3 separate regions of the Homo sapiens genome follow, and all the other regions are linked to region 2. The links come from fine-mapping of genetic effects on gene expression. A gene starts in region 2. Each other region holds a variant in brackets. All regions are shown on one strand. Distances are between the middles of the regions.

Region 1 (2,500 bases), 88 kb before region 2:
CCTTTTTTTTCATCAGTATAGCTAAAGTCTTGTAAATTTTGTTGACTTTTCATAGATTTTCTCTACTGTTTTCCTAGTCTCCCCTTTGTTTATCTCTGCTCTAGTCTCTGTTAATTCCTTTTTTCTGTTAGTTTTGGGTTTAGTTTGTTCTTATTGTTCTAAAAGATCTAAAGATGGGTTATTGACTGGAGATCCTCTCTTTTAATGTAGATATTTACAGCTATGAATGTTTCTTTTATCACTAATTTCACTGCCTCCCATAAGTTTTAGTATGCTGTGTTTTAATTTTCATTTGTCTCAAAATATTTTCTAATTTCTGAGTAGCTGACACAGAGACCAATCCCTTGGACAACCCACAGACAGGTTAGAAAGTTCAGTCTGCTCTGCTTTCTCCAATAATTGTAAAGGGAATAGGGATCTGAGGATTTGGCTGATGCTTCTCCCAAACTGCACTGTGCCAGAGCCTGGGAATGTGAGGGTTAGGGAGACAAGGGTGAGGAAAAATGCTGCAACATATTCTACTGTTTTTAATACAATTTTTAAATATGCATTCACTTTATTGCTATATATCTTTGACTTTTTTCAAGCACTCCTATAAAATAATTTTAGCCAATTTCTAGTTGTTTATTTTATATTTCTATGGGGAAATGAGGGCCTGGAGATTCCTAGTCTGCCATCTTGCTAATGTCACTCTTATTAGGCATTTTTGCAGGTAGAGTTCACAAGTACAGGGTTTTAACTGCTGGTTATTATGACTGCTTTCTTCCTTGTCACTGGGGTTACTTTATGTAATAGATGAATAAATACTCGACTCAAGTATTTATTACTTTATGACCAAGTAAATTGTTGTACACTCCATATAGGGGCCATCCCTCATGTTTGTTACAATGATAGCAACTTGATCAGAAAAAGTCCCAAGTTTACTAGTATATCTTTCTGTAGTTAAAAAATGTTTTCAAAATCCAATCCACAAGATTGAAAGCTGCTTAGAAAGTCTATGGCCTCAGATCTACAAACGTAATGAGATCGATGTTCCCTTACATCTCATTAATCTCCTCACAAGGATTCCTACTAAATTAAGTTCTTGCAACTCTCCTTTTTTGCTTTGCCTAATTTGTATCTTCTGTACCTGATAATTAAATGCCTGGTTTACATAAAGTGTGACTGATTTCTAATTGCTTTCAACAGAGAATCTCAGGGGATCTAAATATATTTTATGCCTTTGTAACTTTCAGTCTCCTTCATGAAGAAGTGAGTGTCTCCACCTACCTTTGTATCGTTTGGAAGGGTTGATCAACATGTGACCTTTAAGTTCAGCAATGTTTCACAGTTTTTCTTTTAGCTAAAGAAAAAAATGAATGATTT[C/A]TATTTGAACTATATTGGAGCACCCTTGCAGTTTATATTTATGTGAGGAGGTTTGAGAAAGTTTATTTTAAATATATTGACAGGACCAGGCATGGTGGCTCATGCCTCTAATCCCAGCACTTTGTGAGACAGAGGCAGGCAGATCACTTGAGCTCAGGAGTTTGAGACAAGCCTGAGCAACATAGTGAAACCCCATCTCTACTTAAAATAATAATAATAATAAGCCAGATATGGTGGCATGCACCTGCAATCCAAACTACTCTGGAGGCTGAGGTGGGAAAATTACCGAACCTGGGAAGTCAAGGCTTCAGTGAGCCATGATCATGCCACTGCACTTCAGCCTGGGTGACAGAAGTGAGACTCTGCCTCAGTAAATAAATAAATGATTTGACAGGCACATCTAGATTCCTCAACAGAGTCTAAGAAGTCACCTTTAAACAATATAAGACTCACACAAACATTCTGATAACTCTCAAAGTAATTGGCACCTTTATTTAAGAAGAGAGAGAGACAGAGAGAGAGAGAGAGAGAGAGAGAGAGAGAAAATCCTGGCTAATTAATACAAAAGGATAGTTTTCAGTTCCAGTTTTACACAAGAAACAGAAAGAGAGCAAGCAAGAACCCACATCTCACATGTTATTGAAACTTCCTTTAGAATATATTAAAGATGTTGAGGTTTGCTTTTCTTTGTTAAGGCAAAAAGTCTCAGCCAAGGAGACAGAGACTCCCCTTAAAGACCAATGCATGATTGTTATTTTCAACACCCTTTTTCCTGTTTCTTCCCAGAATCTAAGAGCCTCTGCAAGACCCAGAGCTGACCGCAGTCCACTGAAGTTATCTTTTTTTTTTATTATTATACTTTAAGTTTTACAGTACATGTGCACATTGTGCAGGTTACTTACATATGTATACATGTGCCATGCTGGTGCACTACACCCACTAACTCATCATCTAGCATTAGGTATATCTCCCGATGCTATCCCTCCCCCCTCCCCCCACCCCACCACAGTCCCCAGAGTGTGATATTCCCCTTCCTGTGTCCATGTGATCTCATTGTTCAATTCCCACCTATGAGTGAGAATATGCGGTGTTTGGTTTTTTGTTCTTGCAATAGTTTACTGAGAATGATTTCCAA
Region 2 (2,500 bases):
TTTCCTCCAACTATCACCATCACCACCACAATCCAGAACTCTGTGAAAAGAGATAAAGATTCAAGGGCCTTAAAGCGATTGTCCCAGGTTGGTTGTGAGGTAATTCTTGTACCTAAAGATACAAAATTTGAGTAAATGACTTTGTTCCTACAGCAGGTAGCAAGCCAGAAGGCTACTGCTGGGCTCATATTTTACAAGTACCTAAAACTAGTTGTTAGTTATGGGGCATGTTTACAAAGTGTTAACATCAACATATTTATGCCCATCTCCATATAGAATCTTCTTAATATAACTCAAGATAATTGATGTAACAAATTCACATCATGATCTTACCAATTTGGTTTTTAACATCAAAGTGCTGCCCCAGGCTTCAATCAGCACATACCAGACTGCTATGTCCCTTTTCTCCAGAAGCCATATTGAGCACCCCACAGCTCTAACACCTCAGAGCCTAGCCAAAGGCCAAGAACACTTGCCTGATCCCCCAAATTTCCAACACAGGACCATTGACAGCAAGCCCAGTCATTCCAGATCATCTTCAGTGGGACAAAAAAAGAAAACAACAGTTTTAATCCAATGGAGGCAATTTATTGTTATGAAGATTTCAGGAAACAAAGCTCAAAAAGGAACCAGAAAGGAAAAGGCTTTTTAGAATGTGGATAGAGCCACAAGTGTCATTAAGGAGAGAGAGAGAGAAACGGAGAGATGAAATTTATGTTACTTAAGATCAAGTTTCACATAATGCCAGTTATATTAGCATATACTGGCAGGATTATCTTTCCCCACCTACAAATAGTCTAATGACCTCACAGTCACAGAAATCACAGAGAACTAAGCTGAAGAGAGAACACTCGTCCCTGCTTCCCATCTTAGAGCAGCTGAATAATTTCCTGAGAATTCTATTCCTGAAGCTAGGAAGAAAAGTTTATTTATACATACACGCAACCTGCAAGTCTCCAGTTTCTATTCTTCCTTCCTCTTTGACCCTTCCCCTCCCCCACTTTGCACCAGAGAAGTCAGACTCCGGGAGTGCTTTAACAGTTTGAAGGCTAATCTGAAAGAGGAAGAAGAATCTGTATATCTGTATATATTGGCTAGCAAATGTGCCCTGCTCTCTCCCCTCTTAAAAATAGCAGCAACCCATCTTTGCAAAGAAGCTTGCCTATAGAGCAGGCACTCTGTGAATGGACTGTGCTTTTACGACCCTACAGGGTATCAAGATACTGTGCAGCTCGCCAACAAGGATTAATTGCAAGGACTGGTAGATCGAATTTACTGAAGACTTGGAGCTTGCTTCTGAGAACAAACGCAAAAGGACAGTAAACTGTGGACCTTGAAGTTAGCAGGTAAGGAGACTCAGTATTCAGTACTAAGACCAGAACAGTATGTAGTAAAATGTTGCTGATGGTAAATTTTAGCAAATTCCCAGGAGTTTGGGGATAAGTTATCTGCCTTGCCTGCTTTAAGTTTGGGTGCTAGTATGAATTCTTTCTGCTTTATTTCTTAGCCAGAAATCTGATAATATGATCAGTCTGTCAACAAATATTGCTCAGTGCTTCTGCTAGGGCTCAACGTGGCAAAATACAGAGGAGACACACTCCGCAAACCTCCTGTGCCTTTGTAATTTAAGCCAGAAATGTAAGATACATTTTCAAATCCCCATTTTGAGGGTTCAGTGGAGTTTCTCTAATGTAGTGACATTTTCCTTCAATATGGAAAATAAATATGTAGTAATTACTGAAGGTAAACCAGTGGAGAGTAAAATTTTCACAAGGTAGTTTCACATTTGTTATCCCACCTGAACCTTTCAACATCCTATAATTTAGACAAGGTAGGTGTTACTGTCCATGTTTATGAATGAGAAAATTGACTCAGAGAGGCTAAAAAATTTTCTTGAAACACACCGTACAACTAGAAAATGGCCAGTTCTGGCCAGAGACTGTAAAAATAAAGCTCTCTCAACTATAAATGAATAGAAGAAAATTGCATGATCTATTTAGTAACTCAGACACATCTGGTGTAGACTAAGTTTACACAGAGCCAAAGATTCATACATTTTAATAAAATCTTTAGCCAGGAACATTTTTCTACTTAGCGACAAAAAAGGCTGTTTTCAAGAGGAAACAAATGGGTTTGTAAGTTCCACCTACTGAATTCAGTGGTTCTGCTTTCCAGTATTCTGATTATTTTGAAACCTAGAGAGAAACTATGATACCATATGTCTAACAAATGATTATTTTAAAAGAAATTGTAACTAAATCTGGACTAGATTGTACACTGTTTTAAAAACAAAAATATTTATATTTTTACAATGCATTATAAAATACAAAGGACTGTATTACATTTAAAATACATTAGGAAAATTTGTTACAAGACAATTTTAACTTTATTACAGAAGTCTTAATCATTCAGAAATGTTTTCTGTTGTTGTTTTACTATTAATGGCTCAATTAGAACTAAAAGCTATCTGTTTTTACATCATAAACAACCTCAAGTGCTA
Region 3 (2,793 bases), 100 kb before region 2:
ATTTGACAAGTTCTCCTTAATGAAGTGAAGTTTAAGAGTTGCCACACTGAAGAGATTTTAAGCGCTCTAATATGGGCATTGAGGCAGAGCCTTGCCATCAATATGTACTTTGCCACAGAAGTAGTGTGCTAGGGGACTCAGGCTACAGTAGAGGCTGGGTGTTAAATAACTGTGGAATTTATGCTTTTTTGGCTAAAAAGTATCTAGATTTGGCTCTGATCCAAGTTAGTATACATAATGTTCTTGTTAAGACTTAAATTGTTAGAGGATACTAACTCCTTGTCTGTGGGAACATAGTCAGTTTGATTCAGGGTACTTCTACTAGAACTTCTTCATGGTCCTTGGAATTTTTCCACTACACGATATATGATGTTTGCTATAAACCAATTGCTTTCATGGAAGCATCAAATCTTAGTTGGAATGGATCTTAAGTCACCCAATCCAATTCCCTAATAACTGGGGTACACAGACTCCCTCTATGAATTCCTGGACAAATGGCCATCCAGAAGCTAATTAAACTCCTCCAGAAACAAAGAACTTTGTACTTCATCGGCAGTCCATTTCATTTTTTTTTTGTATTTTTTTTTATTTTTAGTAGAGATGGGGTTTCACCGTGTTAGTTAGGCTGGTCTCGATCTCCTGACCTCGTGATCCACCCGCCTCAGCCTCCCAAAGTGCTGGGATTACAGGCTTGAACCACCGCACCCAGCCCATTTCATTTTATAGACAGTGTTAACTAGCAGAAAGCATTATCCCATATTGAGTCAAAATCTGTCTCTATAGTTTTTACCCTTGAACATAGTTCTTACTCAGGAAAATACAGAGCAAGCCTGCTCCTTCTTCCCAATGATAGCCCTTTAAAGTATTTAAAAACAGACATTATATACTCTTTAGTACTCCCCCTTCCTAGACTAAATATGTTCAATTCCATCAACTATTTCTCATTTGAGATTATTTTTGGCCCTTTCATGACCCTGATTAGATTAGTCTAGATGTACCCTAGTTTGCCAAACTTCCTTTTAGAGTGTGGTATCTCAACATCAATATTATACTCCAAATAAAGAAAGGTGCTCCTTCTACTAATTCTATTCAGTCAGTCCAGACTGACATAGAATTAATAGAAAGAGCACCTCCCTTGATTTTGAGCACAATGTATTTGTTAATGTAAAATTGTTCAGTTTCTGTTTCCTTCTTTCCTCCCTCTCTCTTTTGCATTTTCGGCAACCACATAAATTCACATTCAGCCGTAGTCAGCTAAATTC[C/G]TGAAACTTTTCCACACAAGCTGCCATTAAGTCACATCATTTCCCAAAGTCAACAAAAACATATATTGGGGACAGGGCACCCTTTTCAATAAATGGTGCTGGGAAAATTGAATTGCCATATACAGAAGGATGAAGTTGGACCACTATTTCTCATCATATACCGAAGCCAACTCAAGATCATTTAAAGACTTAAATGTAAGACCTGAAACTATAAAATCCAAGAAGAAAACCTAGGGAAAACTCTTTTGGACTTTGGCCTAGCAAAGAATTTATGGCTAATACCTCAAAAGCAAATGCTACAAAAACAAAAATAGACAATGAGACTTAATTACACTAAAAAGCTTCTGCACAGCAACAGAAACAATCAACAGAGTGAACAAACTTGCAGAATGGAAGAAAATATTTGCACACTATGAATTCGACAAGAGACTAACATCCAGAATTTACAATGAACTCAAACAACTCAACAATAACAAAGAAGAAAACTACCCCATTATAAAGTGGGCAATGGACATGAACCAACGTTTTTCAAAATAAGACATACAAATGGCCAGCAAGCATATGAAAAACTGCTCAATATCACTAATCATCTAATAATCAGAGAAATGCAAATTAAAACTACAATGAGATATTATCTCACACCACACAGAATGGCAATTATTACAAAGTCAAAAAATAACAGATGTTGGCAAGGATGCAGGGAAAAGGGAATGCTTTTCCACTGTTGGTGGGAATGTAATTAATACAACCTCTAGAGAAAATGGTATGGAGATTTCTCAAAGAACTAAAAATAACACTACCATTTAATCCAGCAATCCCAGTATTGGTTATCTACCCAAAGGAAAAGAAATAATTGTATTAAAAAGATACCTACCCTTATATGTTTATCACAGCACTATTCACAACAGCAAATATATGGAATCAATCTAAGTGTGTCTATCAATGGTTGATTGGATGAAGAAAATGTGGTATACACACACACACACACACACACACACCACGAAATACTATTCAGCCAGGCCATTGTGTTAAGTGAAGTAACTCAGAAACAGAAAATCAAAAACCACATATTCTCACCTGTAAGTGGGAGCTAAATTATGTCCAAGCATGGGCATGGAGTGTGAAGTAATAGACATAAGAATCTCGGAAGGGTGAAAGAGATGAGCAATTACTTAATGGTTACAATGTATATTATTCAGGGGATAGTTATACTAAAAGCCCAGACTTCACCACTATGCAATATATCTATTTAACAAAACTGCACTTGTACAACTTAAATTTATACAAATAAAAGAGAGAGGAAAAAGTCATGTCATTTCCCATATTTTATTAACCATTTATTTGCTTAATATATATCGTCTCCTATGTTGCAAGCACTTTGGTAAGTTTGAGAGTATATAAATAAATTTGAGGGTTGACTTTTGCAAATCTAGTTCAGAATTTTACTTTTTCCTTATTTAATTTTACTTTGTTAAATTCCACTCGACATTGAGATCTTTGTGGATTCCAATCATGATGCCCATCACATTCA

Direction of the effects. Alleles are on the strand shown, and positions count from the first base shown. SD is a standard deviation of normalised expression in the study named. Not every link is listed here.
As copies of C replace G in region 3, the expression in visceral fat of the gene that starts at base 1,040 in region 2 goes up (moderate effect, 0.59 SD a copy in GTEx).

What was found. PIP is the estimated chance that this variant, and not a neighbour inherited with it, causes the effect. A credible set is the group of variants that fine-mapping cannot tell apart.
Region 1: its variant is the best candidate, but not a certain one, in a credible set for the expression of CYSLTR1 in whole blood (TOPMed, PIP 0.54).
Region 3: its variant is the best candidate, but not a certain one, in a credible set for the expression of CYSLTR1 in visceral fat (GTEx, PIP 0.84).

The regions. Positions count from the first base shown.
Region 1 is chrX:78,414,484-78,416,983 of GRCh38, reverse strand. No RefSeq gene overlaps it. Among named protein-coding and RNA genes, the nearest start is that of CYSLTR1, 88 kb to the right of the region's middle. The variant C/A (reference allele first, on the strand shown) is at 1,366.
Region 2 is chrX:78,326,151-78,328,650 of GRCh38, reverse strand. CYSLTR1 (cysteinyl leukotriene receptor 1) reads left to right here and starts at 1,040. Exons shown (of 3, transcript NM_006639.4): 1 at 1,040-1,346. RefSeq lists an enhancer at 819-868.
Region 3 is chrX:78,427,827-78,430,619 of GRCh38, reverse strand. No RefSeq gene overlaps it. Among named protein-coding and RNA genes, the nearest start is that of CYSLTR1, 100 kb to the right of the region's middle. The variant C/G (reference allele first, on the strand shown) is at 1,263.